2 separate regions of the Homo sapiens genome follow, and region 1 is linked to region 2. Evidence: fine-mapped expression QTL. A gene starts in region 2. The other region holds a variant in brackets. All regions are shown on one strand. Distances are from middle to middle. Region 1 overlaps ZNF670-ZNF695 (ZNF670-ZNF695 readthrough (NMD candidate)). Region 2 holds the start of AHCTF1 (AT-hook containing transcription factor 1).

Region 1 (15,245 bases), 30 kb after region 2:
AGGATAGCCATTCAGTATTATCATAAATCCTCAAGTCTTCCATTTTGCCATCCTTAAAACAACTGTTTCTGAGCACAGGGACACTGGCACATGAATGAACGAATGACTTCAGTTTGTCCTCAACTGTCTTGCCAATCAGGCCAACCTTAAAGCTACAGAAGGAGATTGTCCTGAATTTCCCTGAGAGCCAACGGCACTAACAACTGTTAAACCAGAAGAATAAAAACCCAAATATTGGCACACACTCCCCAAACATGTTGTCCAGCAGTTGAAAGCCAAGGACAGGAACAGGCAATGCCTGCCAGCTGTTCCAGGGGAAAGGGTCCAAACTGATCTTAGACTCAGCTTTGCTTGAGTTCAGCCCGAATTGCTGGAGAAGATCCACCAACCTTCCAGTGGCCTAAGATTGATCCAAAACTGGCAGTCACCGTTCCCCAAAGGTGATACTATTATTTCAGCTCTCACAAGAAAACCCATGTAACTGGAAGATGAAGAACAAAAATCAGGATAACACAAGATTCTGATTGTCTTGTCTAATGTACAGGATTTGGAATCAGGCTTCTATATATGGAAACCATGTGTGTCTAGAGCCTTAAGTTTCATGCAAATTCCTGTAAAATGATCACTGATCAGATCATCTGTAAAAATGTGGAATCTGGATTAGACGATCTCTCAGGCCACTTCCAGCTCGAAACTCTGACTTGCTATCTCTATATTCTTATAGGGTTTTCTTGCTCACTAAGTTTTTAGGAAAATAATAACTGAGAAAATAAAAATTTAATACAGTCATACAGTCATCTCAGGATACATTCTGAGAAAATCATTGAGTGTACTTACACAAATCTATATAGTATAGCCTACTATACACCTAGGCTATCAGGTAAGGCCTTGATATGGTTTGGCTGTGTCCCCACCCAAATCTCATCCAAATCTCATCTTGAATTGTAGCTCCCATAATCCCCACGTGTCATGGGAGGGACCTGGTGGGAGGTAATTGAATCATAGGGGGAGTTTTTCCCATACAGTTCTCACGACAGTGAATAAGTCTGCACGTGCTTTCTTGCCTGCCACCATGAAGATGTGCCTTTGCTCCTCCTTCACCTTCCACCACGATTGTGAGGCCTCCCCAGCCATGTGAAACTGGATCCATTAAACCTCTTTTTCTTTAAAAATTACCCAGTCTTGGGTATTTCTTCATAGCAGTATGAAAATAGACCAATACAGGCCTATTGCTCCTAGGCTACAAACCTGTACAGCATGTTACTGTACTGAATAGTGTAAGGAAATCATCACACAATGGTAAGTATTTGTGATAGAAATTTTTCAGCTCTATTGTAACCTTAGGGGATCACTGTCGTCTATGAGGTCCATCATTGACTGAAACTGTTATGCAGTGCTTAACTGTATTATGTGACAAAATGTGTATAAGTAATTTTATTTAATTAAGAGTAGAAGCTCTCCCGCAGTGTTCTCATATACTCTAAACTCTAAAATTATCATTCTACTCAGTATTGCTGATCTCTTCATTGAGCTTGTAAACAAACACCTACACAGAACAGAACTAATTAATTTTAATCTAAATCCATTTTCTTTTGTACAAAGGAGGCTTTTTCCCCAAGATTTGTTTCAATCCTTTAGCCTAAAATGATAACGCCCTATATTTACCTAGCGATGTTAACTTTTCAAAGTCCGTTCTTTTCTACCATCTCTCTAGAATGTAGGCTCCTAAGAGTACTACTGTCTTCTGGACAATGTCCAGCACACAGAAGGTGCTCAGTGAGTCCCAGCTGAAGAAAGTGAATATGATGCTCACAAGAACTCCCTGGGTAGACAACGGTCTCATCACTAACCCCTTACTTGACAGATTTAGGTACGGAGGCACGGGAGCCAGATGAGGACATTAACCAAAGATACCCACATGCCAGATATTAGTTTGGATTGGATTTTTTTTTTTTTTTTTTTTTAAGACAGAGTCTTGCTCTGTAACCCAGGCTAGAGTACAGTGGCATGATCTCGGCTCACTGCAACCTCCACCTCCTGGGTTCAAGCAGTTCTCTGCCTCAGCCTCCCAAGTAGCTGAGATTACAGGCTTCGGCCACCAGTCCCGGCTAATTTTTTTGCATTTTTAGTAGAGATGGGGTTTCACCAAGTTGGCCAGGCTGGTCTTGAACTCCTGACCTCGTGATCGACCAGCCTCGGCCTCCCAAAGTGCTGGGATTACAAGCATGAGCTACTGTGCCCGGCCGATTGGATCATTATTTTTAAAAAAATCTATAAAAGATGGTCATGGGGGCCGGGCGCGGTGGCTCATGCCTGTAATCCCAGCACTCTGGGAGGCTGAGGCAGGCAGATCACTTGAGGTCAGGAGTTTGAGACCAGCCTGGCCAACATGGTGAAACCCCGTCTCTACAAAAAATACAAAAATTAGCCGGGCCTGGTGGCAGTCACCTATAATCCCAGCTACTCAGGAGGCTGAAGTAGGAGAATCACTTGAACCCGGGAGGCAGAGGTTGCAGTGAGCCGAGATTGTGCCGCTGCACTCCAGCCTGGGGGACAGAGTGAGACTCTGCCTCCAAAAATAAAAAAAAGATCATGGGATAATTGGGGGTATGTTAATATTGAATTGCCCATTCTATGTTATTAGATATCATGAAACTATTATTGTTATTATTTATTTTTATTTTTGTAGAGATGTGGTCTTGCTGTGTTGCCCAAGCTAGTCTTGAACTCCTGACCTCAAGTGATCCTCCCACCTTGGCCTCCTAAAGTGCTAGGATTACAGGCATGAGCCACTGCGCTGGGCCTATTTCTTGAGATGATAACGTTGTTGTGATTACTCAGTATAACGTCCTTATGCTTAGGAGATGCATGTTGTGACTGTAATATTTACAGGTGGTATCATGATATGTGAAATGAACTTTCTATTGGTTCAGTAAGAAAAAAAGAGATAAAGCAAATATTGAATTAATAAAATGTTAGTATTATCTGCATCTATATGGAGAATAAATGGTATTCTTTGTACTACTCTTTCAAGTTTTTAATTAAAAATTGGGAAACAGGCCGAGTGCGGTGGCTCATGCCTGTAATCCCAACACTTTGGGAGACCGAGGCCGGCAGATCATGAGGTCAAGAGATGGAGACCATCCTGGCCAACATGGTGAAACCCCGTCTTTACTAATAAATACAAAAAATTAGCTGGGCGTGGTGGTGCACTCCTGTAGTCCCAGCTACTCGGGAGGCTGAGGCAGGAGAATCGCTTGAACTAGGGAGTTGGAGGTTGCAGTGAGCTGAGATCAGGCTCCTGCACTCCAGTCTGGGCAACACAGCGAAACTCCGTCTAAAAAAAAAAAAAAAGAATTGGGGAACACAAGCAACGAAGAAACCACAGCAGAAAATCGTATGTCTGACTATAAGAAAACTTTAATCTTCTCTAATTATGGTTAATTTGGGTGGTAGGACTATATTGGACTATTCTTTTCATCTTTTTCTAAATTTTCCACGTGAGCAGATATTTATAATAAAATATTTTAAAATTCAAATTATGTAGCAATATGAGATAAACCTTCAATACCTTTCTAGAAACACATTGTGGCAGATTGGGTTTTTTTTTGAGATAGGGTGTCACTCAGCTTGCCCAGGCTGGAGTGCAGTGGCATGATCTTACCTCACTGCAGCCTCGAGCTCCTGGGCTCAGGTGACTCCTACATTAGCCTCCCCAGTAGCTGGGACTACAGGTGCACACCACCAAGCCTGGCTAATTTTTTGTATTTTTAGTGGAGACAGGTTTTGCCATGTTGCCCAGGCTGGTCCCAAACTCCTGGTCCTACAGACGTGAGCCACCACACCCAGCCTTGTATTTTCTAAAGATGGTTGCACCTGTATATTTATTACTACATGCATCCTACATGCCTTTTCTATGATGAGTCTGACACTTCTCCCACAGAGACGTTGGATCTATGTTTCTTCTCTTTGAATCTAGGCAGGGACTTGGTTTTTGTTTTGTTTTGTTTTGTTTTTGTTTTTGTTTTTTTTTTGAGACAGAGTCTTGCTCTGTCGCCCAGGCTGGAGTGCAGTGGCGCGATCTCGGCTCACTGCAAGCTCCGCCTCCCGGGTTCACGCCATTCTCCTGCCTCAGCCTCCCGAGTACCTGGGACTACAGGTGCACACCACCACGCCCGGCTAATTTTTTGTATTTTTAGTAGAGACAGGGTTTCACCATGTTAGCCAGGATGTTCTTGATCTCCTGACCTCGTGATCTGCCCTCCTCGGCCTCCCAAAGTGCTGGGATTACAGGCGTGAGCCACTGCACCCAGCCGGGACTTGTCTTATGATTGCCCCAGTATTGAAGTTTGGCAAAAAGTCACAAAATATGTGACTTTGAAGGCTAGGTCATAAAAATGAAGAAACCTCCATTTATTTTTCCTTCTCTCTTGGGATCCTTACCCTTAGAACTCAGCCATCACATAGTAAGGAGACTCAGGCCACAGACAGGTCTAGTGAGGAATTCTGGCTGACATCCTCAGCTAGTCCCCAGCCATGAGCAAGCATCAGCTGCTGTCATGATCCTGAGTGAATGATCCCTCAGAGTCCAGGCGCCAGCCTTTGAGTCTTCCAGCTGATATCCCTGACAATGTGGGTCAGAAACCAGCCATCCATTCTACGCCTGGTGTGAATTTCTAACCATGGAAACGGTGCGAGATAATACACGATGTAACGCATGATTGTTGTACTTTAAGCCACCCCATTTTCGGGTGATTTGTTATGCAGCCATAGTAACACGCGGGGACAGTGAAGTCCTCTAAGGTGAAAAGTGTGTTTGCTATTGGTTTAAGAAAGCGAGTGCCACTCACGGGGAAGAAGAAGTGTCTTGTAAATTATCACTAATCTCCTCAGATGTCAATGAATCAGATACTGTAAATTATCCTTACTCTCCTCAGATGTCAGCGAATCAGATACTGTGTCTTGGCCAGGTGCGTTGGCTCACACCTGTAATCCCAGCACTTTGGGAGGCCAAGGTGGGATTGCTTGAGGCCAGGAGTTTCAGACAAGCCTGGGCAACATAGCAAGACCCTGTCTCTACAACAAAATTTAAAAATTAGCCGGGCATGTACCTGTAGTCCCAGCTACTTGGGAGACTGAGGCAGGAGGATTGCTTGAGCCCAGGAGTTTGAAACTGCAGTGAGGTATGATCTCACCACAGGACTCACTCCAGCCTGGATGACAGAGTGAGACCCTGTCTCAAAAAAAAAAAAAAAAAAAAAAAAAAAAATATATATATATATATATATATATATATATATATATATATAAAATCTCTTTTCTGAAAGAAGCATTTAAATGTTGAAAACACATTATCTGCTTATTCTAGAACCCAAAATGGGCATTTTTTTTGTTTTTGTTTTGAGACAGAGTCTCACTCTGTTGCCCAGGCTGGAGTGCAGTGGCACAGTCTCGGCTCACTGCAACCTCCACCTCCTGGGTTCAAGCAATTCTCCTGCCTCAGCCTCCCAAGTAGCTGGGACTACAGGCGAGCGCCACCATACCCGGCTAATTTTTGTATTTTTAGTAGAGATGGGGGTTTCACTATCTTGGCCAGGCTGGTCTCGAACTCCTGACCTCGTGATCCACCAGCCTCAGCCTCCCAAAGTGCTGGGATTACAGGTGTGAGCCACCGTGCCTGGCCCAAAATGGGCATATTTTTAGAACCTAGACTATTGAGCTTGTCACTTTTTCTTACAATGTGCCACATTCTGCACCAATGATGCAGGAAATTAACAGCTAGATGTTCTTAGTTCTCCCTCTCCGTGGCGGTTCTGAAGATAGGCGGTGAAAGTGGACTGTTCCTCAGAAGCAAAAACTCTCCAGTGTTTCTGATCCATTAGTTCCGTAGCAATGTATGAGTTTTCATAACTATGGTTATGTATTTTGGTAAGCTGCTATCTTCATGCAACAGTCAATTTCACTGAACTTCATTTCCTCTAAGTATGTTAGATTACATATTTCACAATGTATTATTTGAAACAAACCAATCTCATTGAAAAACCCAGTTGAGAAGCTTCATGAATAATTTAACTGCTTGCTTTTCCTCTCAGATTTCACACATTTTGCCACGTCATTATTTAAGGAAACTTTCTCATATTGTAATACTTCCTCTTTTCTATTCAAAGAAATTGTAAACATATCAGCAAAAAGGGAACCACAGTTTTATCTGGAACACTAATATATTTAGAGTGAACAACACTGCCACCCTAAGATTTCCCAGTAACCTAGATGCATTTTGCTGTACTCAAGCAGGCTGATATGATTGCAGTTTGGGGAAAAATTTATATTATATAGAGTGTGGTTTCTTTTGGAGTGGTTTGCTAGTTTCTCCAATGCTGTTTGTCATATATGTAAAAGTAAAAACAGTTGGTATTGTGTAGCAGTATAGAATACTACCTATGTTCTCTCTCTATATATATGCCCCAGAGAACCATTTGTTTCCATTCAGAGTGATAAGGTTATACAAGACCTACTTGGCCATGCAAGACAAGTTCTTTTCTTCATTTCTGTCTACAAATTCAGATCATTTCTCCATAGTTCAAGATAGCTATCTATCCTTCAAAGAATGGTACAGGCCAGGCATGGTGGCTCACACCTGTAATCCCAGCACTTTGGGAGGCTGAGGCCGGTGGATCCCTTGAGCCCAGGAGTTCGCGAGCAGCCTGGGCAACATGGCAAAACTCTAGAAAAATATAAAAATTAGCTGGGCATGGTGGTGCTCACCTGCAGTCCCAGCTACTTGGGAGTCTGAGGTGGGAGGATCACCTGAGCCTGGACTGGTTGAGATCACGCCACTGCACTCCAGCCTGGGTGGAGACCCTGTCTCAAACAAACAAACAAAAAACAAAAAACAACACAAAGAATGGTAGAGAGAGCTGTAAAAGTAAAGAATCTATGAAGGTCTTTTGAGCTCAAAAATGTTTCTATTTCAATTATCATTTAAAACATGTTCACTATGAAGGTGGGCTTCCTGACTTGATTCACTCATTGAAATTCATAGTAGGGTCAGTTGATGACCAAGAAACTTAGCTATTTCAAAATCATGGGGTATAAGTCTTAACATCAAATAATGCATATGTAACTCAAACTTCTCATCTTTAGCATCATCAGTTCAAAAATTATATACGTTACTCCACTAATTAGGCATAACACTTCATTAGAAGTTATATATGCATTCAAAGCCACCTCCAGCTGCACCAGCCTATAATGAGCTGTTTATTTGTTCATGTGACAATCTTATATTGCTACCTATTATTTCATGTGCACGTAGATACTCGATAAAGTCTTTTAAAATGAATGAATGCAAATCTTCTGCCTCCCACAGTGCCTGTTCTTAAATCCTAAGCCCCATTATTGCTACTCCCTGCCACCTCCATTCCATAAACTGCAGGGCCATTGTTCTATAAGCTGCTTGAGTTTAAGAGTGTTGCTTTCACAGCTCTCTTCATACGTACAGGAAGGCTCTGCTTCTCCTTCCCAAGACACTCAGGGAATCTTTCCAGGATGCTTCCCATTCACTCTACTGAATTCACCTACTCCCTCTTGCTACCTCTGCTTATAGTATTTTGCTTCAGACCCAATTGTCACCCACTGGTCCCTGAGATAGGCAAAAGATGCTTTAGACTATTTTCTTGGGTGCTGCCCTCGGGCTCCACATCCTGCAGCCTGCCTCATTCCCATTCTGGAAGGGAGTTCAGATAGCTTGAACTTAGTAGTAAGGGTGATCTGACTCCTGTGATCATTGACTTCAGTGTTCACCAGGCTGCTTAGCAAAGGGCCCTCTTCATCACTCCCTTCATCATTCAGTTAAGGGAAAAGATCTCAAGAACGCAGAGGCATAGAGAGGCACCTCAATGGCACTGTGCTTTGCAGACATATGAGTTGTCATGGCAGACGGTGGTGGTGACGATCACTGCTGCCTGTATCTTTATAACCTTAGAGAAATCTGAACTTCTCTTTAAGGAAATC[C/T]ATGTGTAATTTCCTTCTCTGGTTGCTTCATAGGGCAGTCAAGGCGGCAGGAAGCCACAAAGCCCTGGCTAACAAATTAAAGCAATGTTTATATGCTAGGCTTGGTCTTTCCTAATGAAGGAGAGGCTGCTGACTAGTGGGGCTCAGGTCAGACTTCCTGTCACCAGCTGGGCTTGCACACGTAGGGAACACTGACGAATGGCTTGGGCTTTGTGCCCCATCAGCACTGGGCCCTCATGGCCCAGTCACAGGAATATGGCTAGCAAGGCAGCACGACTGCTTTACACCAGAGTTCAGGGAAAGGCATCACATCCCTCAAGCCACCCAAGCAAGAAGTCTGGTGGTCGTCCTAGCCTCTTGCTCTGCCTCATACCTCACAGACGATTTGTTTACCACGTCATAAAGATTTTACTTCTTAAATACCTCTCAAATCCATCCCCTTTCCTCTCAATGGCTCTGGCCACTGACTTAATTCAGGTCCTCATCATTGATCATCAGAGTTACTAAAATGAGAAGCAAGTGGCTTCCGTGGGGCTGGCCTCTTCACCTCTAAGCTGATGTTTTCTGCAAGAGTGATCTTTCTAAATTACTAACATCAGATTTCATCACCTCTCTGACCCCCTTCTGCCAGCTTGAAACCTTTCTTTTTTTTTTTTTTGAGACGGAGTCTCGCTCTGTCACCCAGGCTGCAGTACAGTGGCACGATCTCAGCTCACTGCAAGCTCCACCTCCCAGGTTCACGCCATTCTCCTGCCTCAGCCTCCCGAGTAGTTGGGACTACAGGCACCCGCCACCACGCCCGGCTAATTTTTTTTTGTATTTTTAGTAGATAACCGGGATGGTCTTGATCTCCTGACCTTGTGATCCGCCCATCTGGGCCTCCCAAAGTGCTGGGATTACAGGTGTGAGCCACCATGCCCGGCCTTGAAACCTTTCAACGATTCCTCGCTGCCTTTAGGCTGAAGTCCAAACACCTTAGCAGGCAAACCGGCTCCTGTCTCTTGCCACCTTTCTCCATGCCCCTCATTCCAGCTATATTCATCTAATGTCCATTTCCGATCATGTCACACTCCTTCTGCCTTTAGTGCTTTTCCATGCTATTCCCTCATCCGGAAGTGGCCATCCTTCACTAACTAGCTCACCCCTGCCACTGCTTCTGCATTCATTTATTCATGACACGTTTACTAAAGGTGACTGTGTGCCAGCCACTAATCTAGGTGCTGGGCATCAGTGAATCAAACAGACAAAACTGGCCATGTGCAGCGGCTCATGCCTGTAATCCTAGTACTTTGGGAGGCTGAGGCAGGAGGATCACTTGAGGCTAGGAACTGGAGACCAGCCTAGGTAACAGAGTGAAACTCTGATTTTACAGAACATAATAAAAAGAAAAATAAAAAACAGGCAAACTTCCTGACTTGTAGAGCTTCCCTTCCAGTGGTGGTGATGGTGGTGGGAGGGGAGGAACAATGAAGCGAACAAACAAGTAAATTCTACGCTAGATGACAAGACAAGTGCTATGGAGAATAATCCGGCAGGGAAGAAGGCTGGCAGTGCCAGAGCAGGTGCGGGGGTTATTGCGATTTTAAATGGAGTTGTGTATAATAGGAAAAACCAACTGCTTTCTCTTCTACAGTCATACTTGTCAGAGAATACTTCCTCTCCGGTTGCTAAAATGTGTGTGGAGTTTTCCCCACACCGACCAATTCTCCAACACCAGCTGGGTGATCTACAATTTAACTCAATCCTGACACTATGTACCTGGAGTTAGAGTCAGATTGCACAGCTTAAGGACTTAGTCCCACAAGACTGCCCCTACTTTAGATGCCAGTCACAAGCCCCAGGCTGTGACCCGTGTTCCTGACTGACAGGCTGTACACTGGAGTTCCCATGGTGCCCTCCTTGGATTTGATAATTTGCTAGGATGGATCACAGAACTCAGAAAACCACTTTATTTATGTTCACCTGTTTATTAGGAAGGATATTACAAAGGATACAGATGGACAGCCAGATGGGAGAGATGCATTGGGCCAGGTATGGGGGAGGGGGCAGGTGGCTTCCACGCCCCCTCCAGGGTGCATCGCCCTTCCAGCACCTCCGCGTGTTCAGCAGCCCGGAAGCTCTCCAAACCCCACAGTTCAGGGATTTTCATGGAGGCTTCATCACATAGGCACCACCAATTACTAACTCAGGTTTCCGCCCCTCTCCCCTTCATGGAGGATGGGGAGCTGAGCTGAAAGTTCCAAGTTTCTAATCATGGCTTGGTCTTTCTGGTGACCAGCCCTATCCAGGAGCCCACCAAGAGGTGCCCCATGAGAAAAAAAGACGCTACTATTACCCAGGAAATTCCAAGTGATCAGGATCTCTGTGTCAGGAACCAAGATCAAAGACCAAATATCAGAACAAAAGATTCTCCTAACGCCCCTATTACTCAGGAAATTAAAGGGTTTTAGGAACTCTATGCCAAAGGACTGGAGACAAATATTGCTATGGTTTGAATGTTTGTCTCTTCAGAAACTCATGTTGAAACTTAATCCCTGGCTGGGCCCAGTGGCCCATGCCTATAATCCCAGCAATTTGGGAGGCCAAGGCAGGTGGATCACTTGAGGTCAGGAGTTCAAGACCAGCCTGGCCAGCATGGTGAGACCTCATCTCTACTAAAAATACAAAAATTATCCGGGCATGGTGGCATATGCCTGTAATCCCAGCTACTCAGGAAGCTGAGGCATGAGAATCACTTGCACCCAGGAGGTGGAGGTTGCAGTGAGCTGAGATCGCGGCACTGCACTCCAGCCTGTGCAACAGAGTGAGTGAGACTCTGTCTCAAAAAAAAATTTAATAAAAAATAAATTAGAAAATAAAAACTTAATCCCCAATGTGGCAGTACTGCAAGATGGGGGAACTTTATGGGGTGATTGGGTCGTGGGGCTCTGCCCTCATGAATGGATTAGTCTGCTCATGGATTAATCCATGGGTTAACAGATTAATGGTTTATTATGGGAATCAGACTGATGACTCTACAAGAAGAGCAAGACAGGCCGGGCACGGTGGTTCACGCCTGTAATCCCAGCACTTTGGGAGGCCCAGGTGGGCAGATCACGAGGTCAGAAGGTGGAGACCATCCTGGCTAACCCCGTCTCTACTAAAACTATAAAACATTAGCTGGGCATGGTGGCGGGCGCCTGTAGTCCCAGCTACTCGGGAGTCTGAGGCAGGAGAATGGCGTGAACCCGGGAGGCGGAGCTTGCAGTGAGCCGAGATAGCGCCACTGCACTCCAGCCTGGGTGACAGAGAGAGACTCTGTCTCAAAAAAAAAAAAAAAAAGAAGAGCAAGACAGACCTGAGCTAGCACGCTCGGCCCATTTGCCATGTGATTTCCTGCGCTGCTCAAGATTCTGCAGAGTTGGCAGGGCATGGTGGCTCACGCCTGTAATCCCAGTACTTTGGAAGGCTGAGGCAGGCCGATCGCCTAAGGTCAGGAGTTCAAGACCAGCCTGGCCAACACGGCAAAACCCTGTCTCTACTAAAAATACAAAAATTAGCCAGGTGTGGTCGTGTGTGCCTGTAGCCCCAGCTACTCAGGAGGCTGATGCAGGAGAATCGCTTGAACCCGGGAGGTGGAGGGTGCAATGAGCTGAGATCGTTCCACCGTACGACCATACGAGCTGAGATCGTGCCACCAGCCTGGGTGACAGTGCAAAAAACGAAGAAAGAAAAAGAAAAAAAATTCTGCAGAGTCCCCACAGCAAGAAGGCCCTCACCAGGAGCAGCCTCTCAACCTTGGACTTCTCAGCCTCCATAACTGTAAAAAATAAATTCCTTTTTGTTTATATACCTTGTTTCAGGTATTCTGTTATAAGCAAGAGAAAACTAACCCAGAAAATTAAAAATATATATATATTTTATATATATATCTTTTTATAAATCACAATATCACAGGTAGTCAGGGAGGCCTCAGTGAGAGGGGACATTTGAGCAAAGACTTGAAGAAAGTGAAGGAGCAAGTCATGTGAGTATTTGGAGGAAAATATTAAGAGAAAAGTTAAGAATAAGGGCAAAGAGCCTGGGGCAGAGGCATACTTCAACTGTGAAGGAAGTAGAAAAAGGCCAGATGGCCTGAGGACAGTGAGCAAGTGAGAGAATAAAAGTCAAAGTGAGGTCGGGCGCGGTGGCTCACACCTATAATCTCAGCACATTGGGAGGCCAAGGCAGGCGCATCACTTGAGGTCAGGAGTTTGAGACCAACAAGGCCAACATGTTGAAACCCCATCTCTACTAAATATTAGCTGGACATGGTGGCAGGTACCTGTAATCCCAGCTACTTGGGAGGCTGAGGCAGGAGAATTACTTGAACCTCAGAGGTGGAGGTTGCAGTAGGCCAAGATTGCGCCATTGCACTCCAGCCTGGGCGACAGAGCAAGACTCCATCCCCCCACCAAAAAAAATTCAAAGTGAGACGGCACAGTGAGTCACACCTGTAATCCCAGCACTTTGGGAGGCTGAGGCAGGAGGATCACTTGTGTCCAGGAGTTCAAGACCAGCCTGGGCAACATAGCATGAACCTGTCTCTACAATTCTTTTTTCTAATCAGCTAGGTATGGGGGCACATTCTTGTAGTACTAGCTACCCAAGAGGCTAAGGTGAGAGATCGCTTGACCCTGGGAGTTCAAGTTTACAGTGAGCTATGATCACATCACTGCACTCTAGCCTGGGCAAAGAGCAAGACCCTATTTTTAAAGGAAAAAAAAGTCAAAATGAGAAAGTTGTGGGGAGGTCCTGTGAGCCACTGCAAGGTTTTACTCTAAGTGAGATAGTGAGATGAGGAGTTATTGGAGGGTTTGAACAGAGGAGTTACATATTAAATAAATCATATTAAATGTTACTTTTTTTGTTGTTTTTATTTTTTGAGACAGAGTTTCACTCTTGTCGCCCAGGCTGGAGTGCAATGGCGCAATCTTGGCTCACCACAACCTCCGCCTCCCAGGTTCAAGGAATTCTCCTGCCTCAGCCTCCCCAGCAGCTGGGATTACAGGCATGCGCCACCATGCCTGGCTAATTTTGTATTTTTAGTAGAGACGGGGTTTCTCCATGTTGGTCAGGCTGGTCTCGAACTCCCGACCTCAGGTGATCCGCCTGCCTCGGCCTCCCAAAGTGCTGGGATTACAGGTGTGAGCCACCACACCCAGCCTAAACGTTACATATTAAAAGGATTATATATTAAAAAGCCACTGGATTGAGAATAGATTGTAAGAAGACAAGGGTAGAGGCAAGGACAGCTGTTAGAAGACTGTTGCAAAACCCCAAGCTAGAAATGCTGGTGGCCTGGACAAGGGTGGGAGCAGTAGAGGTGGCAAGACATAGTTGAATTCTGGATATAGCTTAAAGGTCAGATAGGATCTCCTAATGGCATGAATGGGGGATAAAAGAGAAAAAGGGGTGACAAGGATGATGTCAAGGTTTTGGGTCTGAGAAACTCTAAGGATGAAGTTGCCACTAGCTGAGATAGGGGAAGACTTGCAGGGGCAGGTTTCAGGGGAAGATCAGGAGTTTTGACCTGGCCTTGTGTATTAATCCATTCTTGCATTGCTATAAAGAACCACCTGAGACTGGGTAATTTATAAAGAAAAGAGATTTAATCAACTCACGGTTCTGTGGGCTTTACATGCTTCTGCTTCTGGGGAGGCCTCAGGAAACTTAGAATCATGGCAGAAGGCAAAGGGGAAGCAAGCACATCTTCACATGGCTGGCAGGAGAGAGAGAGCAAAGGGGGAAATGCTATACACTTTTAAACAATCAAGTATCATGAGAACTCACTCATCATGAGAACAGCAAAGGAGAAGTCTGCCCCCATGATCCAATTACCTTCCCACCAGGACCCTCCTCCAACATTGAAGATTACAATTTGACATGAAATTTGGGTGGGGACACAGAGCCAAACCATATCATTCCACTCCTGGCCCATCCCAAATATCATGTCCTCACATTTCAAAACACAATTATGCTTTCCAAACAGTCTCCCAAAGTCTTAACTCATTTCAGCATTAACTCAAAAGTCCAAGTCCAAAGTTTCATCTGAGATAAGGCAGTCCCTTCTGCCTATGAGCCTGTAAAATCAAAAGCAAGTTAGTTACATCTAGGATACAATAAGGGTACAGGCATTGGGTAAATGTTCCTGTTCCAAAAGGGAGACATTGGCCAAAACAAAGGGGTTACAGGCCCCATGCAAGTCCGAAACCCAGCAGGGCAGTCATTAAATCTTAGAGCTCCAAAATAATATCCTTTGATTCCATGTCTAACATCCAGGCCACACTGATGCAAGGGGTAGGCTCCCAAGGTCTTGGACAGCTCTGCTTCTGGCGGCTCTGCAGGGCTTAGTGCCCCATGGCCGCTCTCACAGGCTGGTGTTGAGTGCCTGTGGCTTTTCCAAGCACACAGTGCAAACTGTTGATGGAGCTACCATTCTGGGGTGTGGAGGACAGTGGCCCTCTTCTCACAGCTCCACTTGGCAGTGCCCCAGTGGAGACTCTTTGTGGGGACTTCAACCCCATATTTCCCCTCCACAGTACCCTAGTAGAGGTTCTCCACAAGGGCTCCGCCCCTGAAGCAAATTTCTGCCTGGATATCCAGTTGTTTCCATACATCCTCAGAAATCTGAAAGAATGGAGGCTCCCAAGCCTCAACTCTTGCCCTCTGAGCACCTGCAGGCTTAACACCATCTGGAAGCCTCCAAGGCTTGTGTCTTATACCCTCTGGAGCAGCAACCTGAAACATATCTGGAGTCCTTTTAGCCATGGCTGGAGCTGGAGCAGCTAAAGCACAGGGAACAGGGTCCCAAGGCTGCACAGAATAGCAGGGCCCTAAGCCTGACCCACAAAACTGTTTTTCCCTCCTAGGCCTCCAGGCCTGTGATGAGAGGGGCTGCCACGAAAGTCTCTGAAATGTCTTGGGGGCATTTTTCCCATTGTCTTGGCTGTTAACATACGGCTCCTCTTTACTTACACAAATTTTTGCAGCTAGGTTGAATTCCTCCCCAGAAAATGGTTTTTTCTTTTCTAATACATGGCTAGGCTGCACATTTCCAAACTTTAATACTCCATTTCCCTTTTAAATGTAAGTTCCAGTTTCAGATAATCTCTTTCCTCAGAAATATGAGCATACACTGTTAGAAGGAGCCAGGCCATATCTTGAATGCTTTGCTACTTAGAAATATTTTCTGCCAGATACCCTAAATCATCTCT
Region 2 (15,245 bases):
TCAGCAGATGGTAAAAAGCTATTTGGATATTTCAATTCAGAGCAGACATGTGGACTCTTCAATCAACATTTCTGGTATAATGTGCTACTCATCTGCAGCAAAGACATTACACACGGCTAGAGTGAAGTGGTGGAAGTGACACATTGCTTTACATTCCTCCCCTAGTATCTAGCAAATGAAATGTGTGCGTGCATGCGTGTGTGTGTGTGTGCGCGTAGCACACAGGAGCAGGTACAGAAGAAAGAAGGTGAGTTCACAAAATCCAGAGAATTCTAACATCCTTCAGTGTGTGTGGGGTGAAGTGAAATGAAGGGGGAAATAGATAACCCCAGGAAAACTCCAGGTCTGGAAGTCCCTAACTACATACTATGCCACAGGACCTGAGAAGAGGGCCATGTTTCAGGGAACTGTGCTGCTGTTTTGGGAGAAAGGTGAAGGCCCAAAGGCGTAGAATATAAATCTGGCAAAAGAGAGATCCGAGGTACAAGTCATTACCGTTTCTCAGCACTCCCCCTCCTATCTATTGAGTACAGAAAGGACTACATTCAGTTCCAACACCCAGCCCAAGCCATTCTCACAGAAGAGAATCAATACTATCAAACTGAAACCTGTGGTAAAATAACAGGATAACAGCCACTTCTAACAGATGTGTTTAACTTTAAAAAATTTATAAAGAAATATTTACATTAAAAGAACTACTATAAATTTAACAATTCCTTTCAGTTTTCTTATGAAATTAACTATTTCTAAAAATTAGCATTTCATACAATAATCTCTATGAATTCTTCCATCTGTTTATCTTTAAACAGAGATATCTGAAATATTCACAAAACATTAGTGCCGTTTATTTTTGTGTGATGCAAATTTGTGATTTGCTCATTTCAGTATGGCTTGGATTTCTTATAAAATCAATAATTAAAGAATTTTAAAACATATATATATAAAATAAAAATGCAACTTTAAAAATACAGTACATATTTATGTAGCCTTAGGATGGGAACAAGGCAAAAATCAACCTAACGTTCTTTCTTGTCATTCTTATTCTCTCCACATCTTAGTCCCCTCCCCCAAAAAAATTTATGTGAAAAAAACATTTCAAAGATTCACTCAAAAAATTAAAATATATGAGTTATCATTTTCTGTTCAGGCTATAAATGCTATCTCCTAGACAAAAACTTGATGGACTGCCTCAAAAACTTAATCACATATGTCACCATTAAGTCACAAAACCTAAAAAGTTATGTTTGAGATTTCCAAGTCATCAAAAGTAGAAGTTTGCTTTTTATTATCCAAAACAGATCCAAAAGTCTAACCTAATATAAAGGTGTGCATCAATAGGAAGCTATGACCATTAGCCTCCAATACAAAACCCTCATGAGGGTCCTATACTCAAGCCTTAGTTGCTCTTATATACACAAATGGACCCTATTCATCTCCTAAGTAGCTTAGTACCAAAAAAATTTTTAGAGAAACAGATGGAAAAGGCCAGAATCACATTGTTACTATGTTGTTTTCCCCTCTGACAGCCTTTTATATAGCTTGATAAAACTAGTTTAATGATGAACTGAAGTTAACACATTTTTCCTACTAAACTTAAAACCAAAGTAAGTCAACCAGAACCAAAACCTTCAGAATTCCATGCAGTAGCTTTTTACAAAGTGTATTCAGAAGAGTGCTAATGGATAATGAGCAAAAAAGTTCCATGATCCCTATACTTCAATCAAAATCATCTCAATACAATTTTGGAAAGATTTTCACAAAATCCAAAGTCCAAAGGATAACACACAAAAAGCATTTTTTGGAAAATGAAATATAGTAAATGTTCTATTTCTTAGGCTGGGTGAGTTTTGTTATGTTGTTTGAATGCAAAACAAAGATGATATAGAAGTACTAGCTCTAAGAGAATAAAGCCACAGTATTTAAACTGTGGCCAGACATGATGGCTTATGCCTGTACACCCAGCACTCTGGGAAGCTCAGGCGGAAGGATCTCTTAAGACCAGGAGTTGTAGGTTGCAGTAAGCTATGATCAGGCCACTGCACTCCAGCCTGGGCAAGATCCTGTTTCTAAAAATATAAAAAATAAACCTAATGTGGTTTGTATAACTGTCCCCTCCCAATCTCATACTGAAATGTGATCCCCAGTGTTGGAGGTGGGGCCTGGTAGGAGGTGTCTGGGTCATGGGAGAGGACCCCTCATGAATGGGTTGGTGTCCTCTCCACAGTAATGAATTCACATGAGATCTGGCTGTTTAAAGCCAGGCATGGTGGCTCCCAGCACTTTGGGAGGCTGAGGCAGGCAGACTGACTGAGCCCAGGAATTTGACACCAGCCTGGGCCACATGGCGAAATCTCATCTCTACGAAAAATAATTAGCCAGGTGTGGTGGCGCCTGCCTGTAGTCCCAGCTACTGGGATTGCTTGAGCCTGGGAGGTCAAGGTTGCAGTGAGCCATAACTGCACCAATGAATTCTAGCCTAGGCGACAGTGAGACCCTGTCTTTAAAAAAAAAAAAAAAAAAAAGGCCTGGTACCTCCTCACTCCCCACTCTCATCATGTGAGTATCCTGCTCTCCCTTTGCCTTCTGACATGATTGGAAGCTTCCTGACACCCTCACCAGAAGGTAGGCAGCTGCTGGTGTCATGCCTGCACAGCCTGCAGAACCATGAGGCAAAATAAACCTCTTTTCTTCATAAATTATCCAGTTTCACATATTCCTTTATAGCAACACAGGCTAACGTATTTCTAATTCAAACTTTGAATCCAGGTTCTAGCACTTAATAATACATGTAACATTGTGCTTTACTATATTCTGTCTTCCTCCCTTTCATATCCAAGCTTCTAGAAAAGAGGAGTACTTATTTCTCCAGACTTCATCATGGTGCCTAGCACAAAGGAGTTCAAAAAAATGTTTAATAAAGTTTTTCAAATTTAACAGCCTTTGAATCTATAGGGCAAAATTGGTTTTAAGACTTTTCCAATTTAAGCACACTACAGAGAACATCGAAACACTCTATTATTAGAAATAGGGGCCAGGCGCGGTGGCTCACACCTGTCATCCCAGCACTTCGGAAAGCTGAGGTGGGTGGATCACCTGAGGTCAGGAGTTCAAGACCAGCCTCACTAACAGGGTGAAATCCCGTCTCTACTAAATACAGAAAACTAACCAGGTGTGGTGGCGCATGCCTATAATCCCAGCTACTTTGGGAGGCTGAGGCAGGAGAATCACTTGAACCCGGGAGGCGGAGATTGCAGTCAGCCGACACTGCACCATTGCACTCCAGCCTGGGCAACAAGAGCGAAACCCCGTTTCAAAACAAACAAGTCTCAAAACAAACAAAAGTGTATGGCCGGGCCGCGGTGGCACACGCCTGTAATCCCAGCACTTTGGGAGGCTAAGGCGGGCGGATCACGAGGTCAGGAGATCGAGACCATCCTGGCTAACAAGGTGAAATCCCGTCTCTACTAAAAATACAGAAACAAAATTAGCAGGGCGTGGTGACGGGAACCTGTAGTCCCAGGTACCCGGGAGGCTGAGGAGGGAGAATGGCGTGAACCCGGGAGGCGGAGCTTGCAGTGAGCCAAGATCGTGCCACTGCACTCCAGCCTGGGCGACAGAGCGAGACTCTGTCTCAAAAAAAAAAAAAGAAAGAAATAGGCCAGGCACTGTGGCTCACACCTGTCATCTCAGCACTTTGGGAGGCCAAGGCGGGAGAATGGCTGAGGTCAGGAGTTGGTTAGAGACCAGTCTGGCCAACATGGTGAAACCCCGTCTCTACTAAAAACAAGAAATGTAGCAGCCAGCCACGGCTGCATACGCTTGTCATCCCGACTACTTGGGAAGCTGAGGCATGGGAATCGCTTGAACCGGGGAGGTGGAGGTAGCTGTGAGCTGAGATGGTGCCACTACACTCCAGCCTCAGCAACACAGCCTGACTGTCTCAAAAAGAAAAACTATATTATTAGAAAGAATATCTCATATAAAGGTATATGAAAACACAAACACACATGAAACACCTACGTTCAGTACTGTACAAAATTAAACAGAATCCCAGCCTTTTATGACATGCCAGCACTGGCAACCTATAAAAAGTAATTTACTAAGTTTCAATTCCTTTCCAAAGGCTAGATAGGCAGAGCAGGAACGTTCTACTGGCTTTGAATGAAGATACTGTTCATGGCCGGGCGCGGTAGCTCAAGCCTGTAATCCCAGTACTTTGGGAGGCCGAGGCTGGCGGATCACAAGGTCAAGAGACCCAGACCATCCTGGCCAACATGGTGAAACCCTGTCTCTACTAAAAATACAAAAATTAGCTGGGCGCGGTAGCGCGCTGTAGTCCCAGCTACTTGGGAGGCTGAGGCAGGAGAATCGCTTGAACCTGGGAGGCAGAGGTTGCAATAAGCCAAGATCACGCCACTGCACTCCAGCCTGGCGACAGAGCAAGACTCCGCCACCAAAAAATTAATTAATTAATTAAATTAAATACTGTTCGGCCGGGTGCGGTGGCTCACGCCTGTAATCCCAAGGCAGGTGGATCACGAGGTCAGGAGATCGAGACCATCCTGGCTAACACGGTGAAACCCCATCTCTACTAAAAATACAAAAAAAATTAGCCGGGCGTGGTGGTGGGCACCTGTAGTCCCAGCTACTGGGGAGGCTGAGGCAGGAGAATGGCATGAACCCGGGAGGCGGACCTGGCAGTGAGCCGACATCGCGCCACTGCACTGTAGCCTGGGCGACAGAGCGAGACTCCGTCTCAAAAAAAAAAAAAAAAAAAAATTACTTCTGCTTGCCTGTCTTCTCCACTACACTATGAATTCCTAAAAGGCAAAAATCACCAAATCTTATTCCTGGGCATTCGACAAGGTCACAGTGCCTTTGGACTAACAGGTCCTAAATGTAATAAATTAGGATAACAGGATACTGTATAGCAGGATATTATTAGGATACTAGCAGAGACAAGAAATAGGCATGTTAAACAATAAAATCAATTTTTTAAAACTCAAGATTGGGCCCAATTATTTTTAAGTATACACTGGTTCAGTATTAAACAAAACAAAATTCTTAAAATTACTAGGCCAGATACTAAAAACAGAATACTATAAATCAGTTTTCTGTGTGAAATACACAAATTCCTGCAGTAACTGAATTCCACCACAGAAAATGGAACTCTAATCTAGTTCAACAATTATATTGCAACATGTACCAAGCAAACATTTCTATAAACCACTTTGTATGCAATGGTACTTTTTTTCTTTTTGACTAATAAAAAGACGAATTGTCATTTAAATGTAAACTACCAGTGGACCCAGAAACTTCAAGCCTTTCAGAAATTTCTTACCAACTTAATTCAAACATTTTAAAATCACAAACTACTTTTAAAACACCGTGTTAGTAAAGGAATGCAAGGTCAAGAAGATAACCTTCTTCCTGACTTTAAGGAGTTTACAATCTAGAAAAGGAGATATATAGTCAATTATCAGAGTATCAGACACAAAGAATAAATGCTACTACAATAGAGGTACATATGCTGTGAGATCCCAGTAAAAAAGTGGGATAAGGGGAAATAAAAGAGTACAGTGGGCTGGGTGCGGTGGTTCACGCCTGTAATCCCAGCACTTTGGTTGGCCGAGGTGGGCAGATCGTCTGAGCTCAGGAGTTCGAGATCACCCTGGGCAACATGGTGAAACCCCGTCTCTACTAAAATACAAAAAATTAGCCGAGTGTGGCGGCGCGTTCCTGTAGTCCCAGCTACTCGGGAGGCTGAGGCACAAGAATCGCTTGAGCCCTGGAGGCGAAGGTTGCAGTGAGCCAAGATCACGCCATTGCACTCTAGCTTGGGCTACAAAGTGAGACTCCGTCTCAAAAAAATAAAAATAAAAATAAAAATACAGTGAAAACATTGGATTTAGAAGGAGGACCTGAAATTTGAGTATTTAAAAAAGGAAAGATGGCACTCCAGGATGAAGGACATGAGCAAAGAAACATCAGAGTGGAAACATCTCTTCCACAGAATGAGTCCAGGATTGATGACGATTCTGGAATAGCAAAAGCATAAAATTTGTTAACATATGAGGATAGACAGTAGCATATACTTATTGTAGAGACCTTTGAGCTAACCGAGGGAAGTTACACTTCATTCTGGGAAGAAAGAAAAGTCCCTGAAAATATTAAAGGTAGGCGTGAAAGACACAACGTTTTGCTTCCTCTTAAAATATATCTGTACCAGCCGGGCGCGGTGGCTCACGCCTGTAATCCCAGCACTCTGGGAGGCCAAGGCGGGCGGATCACGAGGTCAGAAGTTCAAGACCAGCCTGGCCAATATGGTGAAACCCCGTCTCTACTAAAAATACAAAAATTAGCCGGGTGTGGTGGCGTGCGCCTGTAATCCCAGCTACTCAGGAGGCTGAGGCAGGAGAATCGCTTGAACCTGGGAGACGGAGGTTGCAGTGAGCCAAGATTGTGCCACTGCACTCCAGCCTGGGCAACAGAGCAAGACCCCGTCTCAAAAAAAAAAAAAGATGTATCTGTACCTATGAAAAAGGAGAAGCATAAAAAGAAAACAAAAGTCTCAAAACTGATGTATAACGATCTTTTTTATTTTATTTTAGCAACAGGTTCTCGCTCTGTCACACAGGCTGAGTGCAGCGGCGCGATCCTAGCTCACTGCAACCCTCGAACTCTCAGTTTGAGGCTGAAGCTCAAACGTTCCCCCCGCCTCAGCCTCCCAAGTAGGCGCGCGACTAGAGGCGCCACCAATTCCCGGTTGACATGATGTTTTAAAAATTTTTTCAAGATAATTATTGTTGTTTGCAAACTCGTGACAGCTTGGTAGTATGTTACTGAAGGATCAGGATCCAAAAATCACAGTACAGAGACAACGTAGACTTCCCATAGCGCTTGGCACACTTAAAACATCCCTTCAAGTATTAACCTTAACTGGGCTTGTCATCCCAGGTCAAATCCTCCGAAATAAGTAAACCACTCTAATTTCTTCTCTCCTAAGAGACTCTATCAGTGAAAGCTCACAAAAAAACAGTTTAAAAAAAAAAAAGGGGGGGTCTCGCCATGTTGCTCAGGCTGGTCTCAAACTCCTGGGTTCAAGCGATCCTCCCGCCTCAGCCTCTCAAAGTGCTGGGATTACAGACAGGAGCCACTGCGCCCAGCCAAAGACAGTTCTTAAAATCTACAGGTTCTTTAGGATATTCTGAGAATAAATATCGTTTAGGATTTCCCCAAAGGATTTACGTTTTGTTCTATGAAGAACCCAGTTCTTCCAAAAATTTCTACAACTGACGATTTGGAAATAAAAATAACGCTCATCTCATAAAACTTTGCACACAGATAGTATGAACCTCGTAAGCTTTGAGAACAAAATTTCCCCATCTCTCAAAACAAAACACCCAAACCAAAACAGTCAACCAGTGGCAAAAGAAACCGTCCTGTTTCCCAGGTAGGAAAAAGGAAGGCAAAGCACCCCAAGATGTGCTTTTATTTTAAATCTCCTTGATCTGACCAATCGGGTGAGCTGGAACCTCACGGCTGAGCCCCGAGTCCAACTTCTTCCCCGCCAGGACTACTCACTGTGGCCAGGCCCAAGCGCATGTGGAACACACGCCAACACAGGACAGGCTCAGCACGCCGGCCGCTTCCCTCGGGGAAAGGCCCGCCAACGAGTCCATCGCGTGGGAGAACAGTGGGAAAGGGTCGCGGCCCCGGCCGTCCGTAAAGGGACCCGACTGCCGGCGCAGGACGCGAACCACCAGCGCCGCTCCGCCGCCATGTGCCGCCGCTCCTCCGGTCCGAGATTATGTAACGAAGCCCGGCGCCCGCGAGCCTGCCGTACCCGCCACCGCCACCGCTCGCCCCCTCGAGCCCCATCCGTTGGCCCCGCGCACGCCCGGCCTAGGCCCGGCGCTCGCGGGGCAGAAGCCCCGCCGCCGCCGCCGCCGCCGCCGCCGCCGCCGCGGGTCCAGGCCGCGCGACCCGCCCTCCGCCGCGCGGGCCCAACCCCCTCCCTCCCTTCCCCCTACCTGAACGGGGCGGGTGAGCGCGCCGCCGCGGGCCGAGTCCACCGGGTCGCCAGGCCAGGCGCGAGCTCCTCCCGTGCGGGTCCGTCACAGCATCTCCCGGGAGACGTGGCCGCCACGGGCCGGGCTCACACCCCTCCGCCCGGCTGAAGCCGCTCCTCTGCGCTCCGGCCGCCGCCTGCGACCTCCCCGGCCACCTCAGAGCCACACGCCCCCGAGAGTGCCTTCGCGGGCTGTAGGCCTGCAGACCGCTCAGCGGCTAAAACGCAGTCGCTGCTCCCGCCGCGCTTCTGGGTCCTTCCCCTTGCAACGCTGCCTGCTCGCCTCGGACAGCGCCGGCCCCGCTCTGCGCATTACCCTGCGCCGACAAAACCGAGTTCCACACGCCCCGGAAGGGAGGGAGCAGAGGAAAGGGCGGAGAGGGAGGGGAGAACCGGCGGGAGATCGCGGCTGCAGGGACCAGAGTTCTCGCGATGGTTCCGCGCTCTAGCGCCGGCTCCGCGGGAATTTTCAAACTCTCGGTGAAAGAAGGAGGTGGGAGGGAAAGGGAGGAAAGAGAAGCAGGGCCTGGAAGGGCGGATCATTTACAAAAAAATCGGGTCTCTCCGCCTCCGAGGAGCTGGTGGGGAGAAAGACTACGAGTCCCACAGTGCCTTGCGCGTGAAGCCGCCCTGGCGGCCCCGGCGGCGCGCCCCGTGCGCAGTTGGGAGTGGTAGTCTTCGCTGGGGGTCGCGCCGGGCTCTGCCAGCCGCCTGCTGCGATTGCAGGCGGACTCTCTTGTCACGTAATCGTGTGGCCCTGCCAGCTGGGGGCCGAGTGATAATCTTTCTCCCATAATTGGCAGCTTGCATTCTGTATTTTCTGTTCTGTGCTCCCACTTTTCTTTTTTTCTTTTTCTTTTTTTTGGAGACGGAGTCTTGCTCTGTTGCCCAGGCTGGAGTGCTGTGGCACGATCTTGGCTCACTACAACCTGTGCTCCCGCTTTTCATGCCAAAGGTGGGCTCCCAGACTTCTGGGGAAACGCTTTTTCCACGGTGCTGTTTTTTCTAGCATCCTCCTGTGCTTTCATGGCCAAAAATGCTCGCGCAGCCTAGCCTAATCTTTTTAGTCAAAATTTTACCCCAAATCACTGTTATCTTTTTGGTCACCGCGGGTTTTCATTGTGGAATTTCTTATTTCTTGTTAGTATCTTCCTTTGAAGCAAATCCCAGCGCCAAACATGTTTCAAACAGATAGGGAACGTATCCTTAATACTAAGTAGTAAGTAAAAGGATTATAACATGAGGTAGAGTAGGGATTTTAAGAAGATGCTCTTTTATCAGGAAAGTTTCTACTTTTCTGTTACCTTTCATATGTGCTTTTTAAATTTTTTTATTTTTGAGACAGTGTCTCGCTCTGTCGCCCAGGCTGGAGTGCAGTGGTGTAATCAAGGCTCACAGCAGCCTCGAACTCGTGGGCTCAAATGATCCTCCTACCTCAGCCCTCCAAGTAGCTGGGACTATGGGCATGGACCACCATGCGCCACTACGTCCCATTAATTTTTTTATTTTATTTATTTATTTATTTATTTATTTATTTGAGACGGAGTCTCGCTCTGTCACCAGGCTGGAGTGCAGTGGCACAATCTCGGCTCACTGCAACCTCCGCCTCCCAGGTTCAAGAGGTTCTCCTGTCTCAGCCTCCAGAGTAGCTAGGACTACAGGTGTGCGCCACCATGCCCAGCTGATTTTTGTATTTTTAGTAGAGACAGGGTTTCACCATGTTGGCCAGGATGGTCTTGAACTCTTGACCTCGTGATCCACCTGCCTCAGCCTCCCAAAGTGCTGGGATTATAGGCGTGAGCCACCGCGCCCGGCCTTATTTTTTATTTTTTGTAGAGACTGTCTCACTGTGTTACCCAAGCTGGTCTCTACTCCTGGGCTCAAGAGATCCTCCTGCCTCAGCCTCTCAACGTGCTGGGATTACAGACATGAGCCACCATGCCCAGCCTATTTTTATTTTTGTAGAGACTGTGTCTTGCTGTGTTGCTCAGACTGGAGTGCATGGCTATTCGCAGGCACTATGGCCTCATCAGTGCCACTGCTGCCTCCAACTTCTAGGCTCAAGCTATCCTCCCACCTCAGCTTCCCGAGCAGCTGGGACTACAGGCATGGATATCATGCCTGGCCCATATTCTTTCAGAGATAATGCTGCCTTTTGGAAATGTAATTTTCTTTTTTCTGTAATTTTTGTTTCTTTAGTAACAGCAACCTCCATACATATCATGTTTGTTTGCACAAGGTATTGGACCAAGTTGTGATAGAAACAGTTAAAAAGAGTACTGCTTTTGCAGTAGGAGGTTTGGGGTTCGTTGTCTTAATTATTTTAAAGAGATCTCTTCAAACAGAAACCACCCTCTGTTGGATGTGCTGATTTATGTCACATGCTCCATATTCTACACTTTCTTTGGCACTGTTTTATGCCCAGTTCATGAGTACTGTACCTCTCGATAGTCAGAAGACATGAATTATCAACTCAGGTGTGCTGCTAGTGAGCTGTGTGACATTAGGAAAATCAAGTGACCTCTCTGGGCTTCAGTTATCAGATGTGTAGAGCAAGGGATTGACTGATTCATTAGACAGATATTTATTAACTTTGCTCTAAGAGCCCTTCCAGTTGTGAAATTCAAAAATCTATTTTAATTGCACATATTATCCAGATTGACTGTCTACATAGTCTTTCAGATTTTAATCCTTTCCATCATTATCAACAGAATGATTTCTGTATCATTGTCTATATTTTTATTATTTACTTATTTTGAGACAGGGTCTTGCTCTGTTACCCAGGCTGGAGTGCAGTGGCACAATCTCGGGTCACTGTAGCCTTGACCTCCTGGGCTCAAGCAGTTCTCCTACCTCAGCCTCCCAAATAGCTGGGACTACAGGTGCATACCACCACTCCTAGCTAATTTTTGCATTTTTTGTAGAGACAGGGTTTCTTCATGTTACCCAGGCTGGTCTCAAACTTGTGGGCTCAAGTGATCTGCTGGACTCAGCCTTCCAAAGTGCTGGAATTACAGACGTGAGACACTGGCCTGGCCTGTGTAATTGTCCATAATCTAGACCAACTCTACCTGTCGTATTTTATTTCCCTATATAGTTCCTGAGCTTTGTTTTGTTTTGTTTTGTTTTTTAACTCTCCAAACCTGTTTTCTCTTTCAGTGTCTCCCAGCCTCTTCTCTCCCTGAGTAAATCTTAACATCCCTCAGGGGCCAGCTCAAGCCTCTTTCCTCTTCCCAATCTTTTCTTCAGCTTCAGCCCACATGAATCACTAAAAACTTGAGCGAAATATGCTGTCTGAATTGTTTCATGTCTGTTTCCCTTTTTGCCTCTGACTCTCTCCATCCACCCACCATCTCCATCTCCCAGCTGCACTGGGAGCACAGACTGTATCTTTTTAAAATGCTTCCCCCATAACTGCTAGTTTTTTATTTTAGTTGCTTTGCAAACTGAATTTCCAATTTAAAGCTCTCATTCAATCCTTTTTCTTCTTTCTTTCAGACATTTAACTAAGCAAATACCAGATTATTTTAATTGGTTTCAAGAGATGTTAATAAGTGTTAAATGAAGAAAAATCTAGATTTGGTAATCAAATGAGTTTGGGGGAAAAGCTGATTAAATAAAAATAAAAATGTATTTTCTGTAAGACTTCACTGGCTTTAATATGCTTGGCATTCCCCAGAGTTGCTTGACCATGGCATCCATTTGCACTTGTGTAACATCTTGCCTTATTAGTGCTTCACAGAACAGACTCTGGTAAACACGGCTTCAAAGCTTTCTCTCACTGGAAGAAGCATGTTGTGGTGAAAATAATGAAATCATTTGGAGCCAGACAAACTTGGGTTTACTGCGTTTCACTACTTTCTAGCAACATGACTTTTATGAAATTACTTCACTCTCTGAGCCTGTTTTCTCAGCTAAGAAGAAAAGATAATGTCACTTTCTTTGCAGAACTGTTGTAAAGATGAAAGGGAAGTACATGCCTTCCTTAGAACCTCATTCCGTTTTCACCTATATGGTCCTAAGTTATGTTGGTAAAAGGCCTAGAAATGGATAATAACTGGTACAAATCCTCATGCTTCCATCTGGAATATTTGATTCAAGAGACAATATTTTTAAAAATTTTATTTATTGATTGATTTTTGAGATGGAGTCTCACGCTATCACCCAGGCTGGAGTGCAGTGCAGTGGCATGATCTCAGCTCGCTGCAGCCTCCGACTCCCGGGTTCAAGCGATTCTCCTGCTTTAGCCTCCCATTGGGATTACAGGCCTGTGCCACCACTCCTGGCTAATTTTTGTATTTCTAGTAGAGATGGGGTTTCACCATGTTGCCCAGGCTGGTCTTGAACTACCGACCTCAAGTGATCCACCCGCCGTGGGCTCCCAAAGTGCTGGGATTACAGCATGAGCCACTGCACCCGGCCAAGAGGCAATATTTTAATACCATTCCAGCATCCTGGGAGTGACTAGCGGCCATCTGATTTCAGGGAATTCAGGACTTCATTGAAGCGTTCTGAGTTAGATCTCCAATTGTTTTGCAAAGTAACAGGGAAAGCCTTATTACTTTAACAACAACAAAAATGGAGCTTATCTGTCTCGAGCAGAGAAAACTGTCTTTGTCCTAACAGGTACATGTTCATCATTTTTGTGCAGTTGATTGGTTATAGCAAGCAGTGCCCACCCTTGATTTCTCCAATTGACAATAAACTAGGTGAATGAACAATCATATTTTTCCTGTTCCCCACTCTATGTCCAGTGATGGCACAATGGCCAGAGCGTAAATACTAAAATCATTGTCTAGTGACTGAGCAAATAATAATTCATCATTCAAAGCAAAATATGCAAAAAAAAAAAACAAAGCAAAATATGCCATATTAGATTATAAGGAACCTTAGAGATATTCTAGGCCAAACACCTTATTTTATAGGTGGTGAAATGAATTGTCAAATGATTTGCTACAAATTTTTTGGGATGGATTTTTTGTTTTGTTTAAAAAATAAGCCAAGTGCAGTGGCTCACAGCTGTAATCCCAGCACTTTGGGAGGATGAGGCAGGCAGATCACCTGAGCCCAGGAGTTCCAGACCAGCCTGGGCAATATGGCAAAAACCCATCTGTACAAAAAATACAAAACTTAGCCGGGCATGGTGGTACATGCCTGTAGTCCCAGCCACTTGGGAGGCTGAGGTGAAAGGATCACTTGAGCCTGGAAGGTCAAGATTGCAGGAGCGGTGGTCGTGCCACTGCACTCCAGCCTGGGTGACAGAGCAAGAGACCCTGTCTCAAAACAAAACAACAACAACAAAAAAAAAATTGTAGGGGCAGCAAAACTTTACCTTTACCCTCTTAGGCTCTCTGGCTGGGTTTGAGAATTAAATTGACACAAGTGAGAATAACAGGAGAAAGGGCTGGGCAAGGTGGCTCACACCTGCCATCCCAATATTTTGGGTGGCTGAGGCAGGAGGATTGCTTGAGCGTGAGCCTGGGAGTTTGAGGTTGCAGTGAGCTATGATCGGACCACTGCACTCCAGCTTGGGCAACAGAGCGAGATCTTATCTCTAAAAACAGAGAAAAGTACACAGATTTTTACATGTACATGGGAGCCCCCATAGGAAAATGAAGACCCAAAGACATGACAAAACCTAAATGCTTCTATAGTAGGTTGAACTAAGAGTGACGGTTGTGGACATGTGTTGGGATGCTAAAGATACAAGTTAATTTAACAATTAACTTTTTTTCAGATTTTTCTCAGCCTTGACTCCACATCTCTGATGACTAGAATGTTTCTTCTCTCCTGGGACAAGGAAGGCAGCGTTTCCCTTTTGTATCAGCCGTTTCTCAACTGCCTTTAGCTCAAAATAATCCTTATGCCAAAAGGCATATTTTGGGGTGCCATCCTCTGCCACCCTTCAACATTTTTAATTTTTAATTTTTAAAATTTTTTAATTTTTAAAATTTTTTTGAGACAGACTCTGGCCCTGTTGCCCAGGCTGGTGTGCAGTAGCGTGATCTCGGCTCACTGCAACCTCCTTCTCCTGGGTTCAAGCGATTCTCCTGACTCAGCCTCCTGGGTAGCTGGGATTACAGACATGCACCACCATGCCCAGCTAATTTTTTTTTTTTTTGTATTTTTAGTAGAGATGGGGTTTCACCATGTTGGTCAGGTTGGTCTTGAACTCCTGACCTCAGGTGATCCACCCGCCTTGGCCTCCCAAAGTGCTGGGATGACAGGCATGAGCTACCACGCCTGGCCCACCCTTCAACATTAAATCAAACCTACAGTCATAAAAGAAGAAAAGTAATAACAAACATTTAAATTGTAAAATATTTTTGTCATCATAGTCTTTATGCATTTGAAAAATTGTTTGCGTGAATGGTACCCCCCCCCCAAAAGCCAGATTATATTTCTTTCTCCAAACACTGGTAATATTTGTCATTAACAGGTACCACAATTAATCTGTTCCTTAAAATTTTTCCTCTTTCTACTTCTCCGTTTTTTTCACATTATTTTCTTCAAAGGTTACTTTAAAAAATCTATGTGTGGGCTGGGCACGGTGGCTCACGCCTGTAATCCCAGCACTTTGGGAGGCTGAGGCGGGCAGATCACGAGGTCAGGAGATCGAGACCATCCTGGCTAACACGGTGAAACCCCGTCTCTACTAAAAAGACAAAAAATTAGCCGGGCTAATTAGGCGGGCACCTGTGGTCCCAGCTACTCGGAAGGCTGAGGCAGGAGAATGGCGGGAGACGGAGCTTGCAGTGAGCCGAGATCGCGCCACCGCACTCCCGCCTGGGCGACAGAGCGAGACTCCGTCTCAACAACAACAACAACAACAAATCTGTGTGTTTTGGCTAAAACTATTCAGATTCTGATTTCTCTGTTACTTAAACCCAAAGAACACCCTTAATGACAGCTCTTGAAATACAGTTACATGTCACTTAATGATGGGGAAACATTTTGAGAAATGACAATTTCATTGTTGTACAAACATCAGAGTGTACCTACAGAAACCTGAATAGTATAGCCTACTACACACCTAGACTATATGCGATAGCCTATGGCTCCCAGGCTACAAACCGGTGCAGCATGTTACTGCACCAAATACTGTAGGCAATTGTAACACAATGGTGAGTAATTGTGCATCCAAACATAGAAAAGATACAGTAAAAATGTGGTA

Evidence for each region. PIP is the estimated chance that this variant, and not a neighbour inherited with it, causes the effect.
Region 1: its variant is fine-mapped to the expression of AHCTF1 in whole blood (TOPMed, PIP above 0.99).

What each region holds. Positions count from the first base shown.
Region 1 is chr1:246,954,043-246,969,287 of GRCh38, forward strand. It overlaps ZNF670-ZNF695 (ZNF670-ZNF695 readthrough (NMD candidate)), which reads right to left. Exons shown (of 7, transcript NR_037894.2): 6 at 13,653-13,750. It also overlaps a transcript of ZNF695 not described here. Among named protein-coding and RNA genes, the nearest start is that of AHCTF1, 30 kb to the left of the region's middle. RefSeq lists enhancers at 8,281-8,440, 8,491-8,540. The variant C/T (reference allele first, on the strand shown) is at 8,011.
Region 2 is chr1:246,923,545-246,938,789 of GRCh38, forward strand. It overlaps AHCTF1 (AT-hook containing transcription factor 1), which reads right to left and starts at 8,404. Exons shown (of 36, transcript NM_001323342.2): 1 at 8,034-8,404. RefSeq lists enhancers at 7,527-7,616, 8,737-8,786 and a silencer at 7,957-8,056.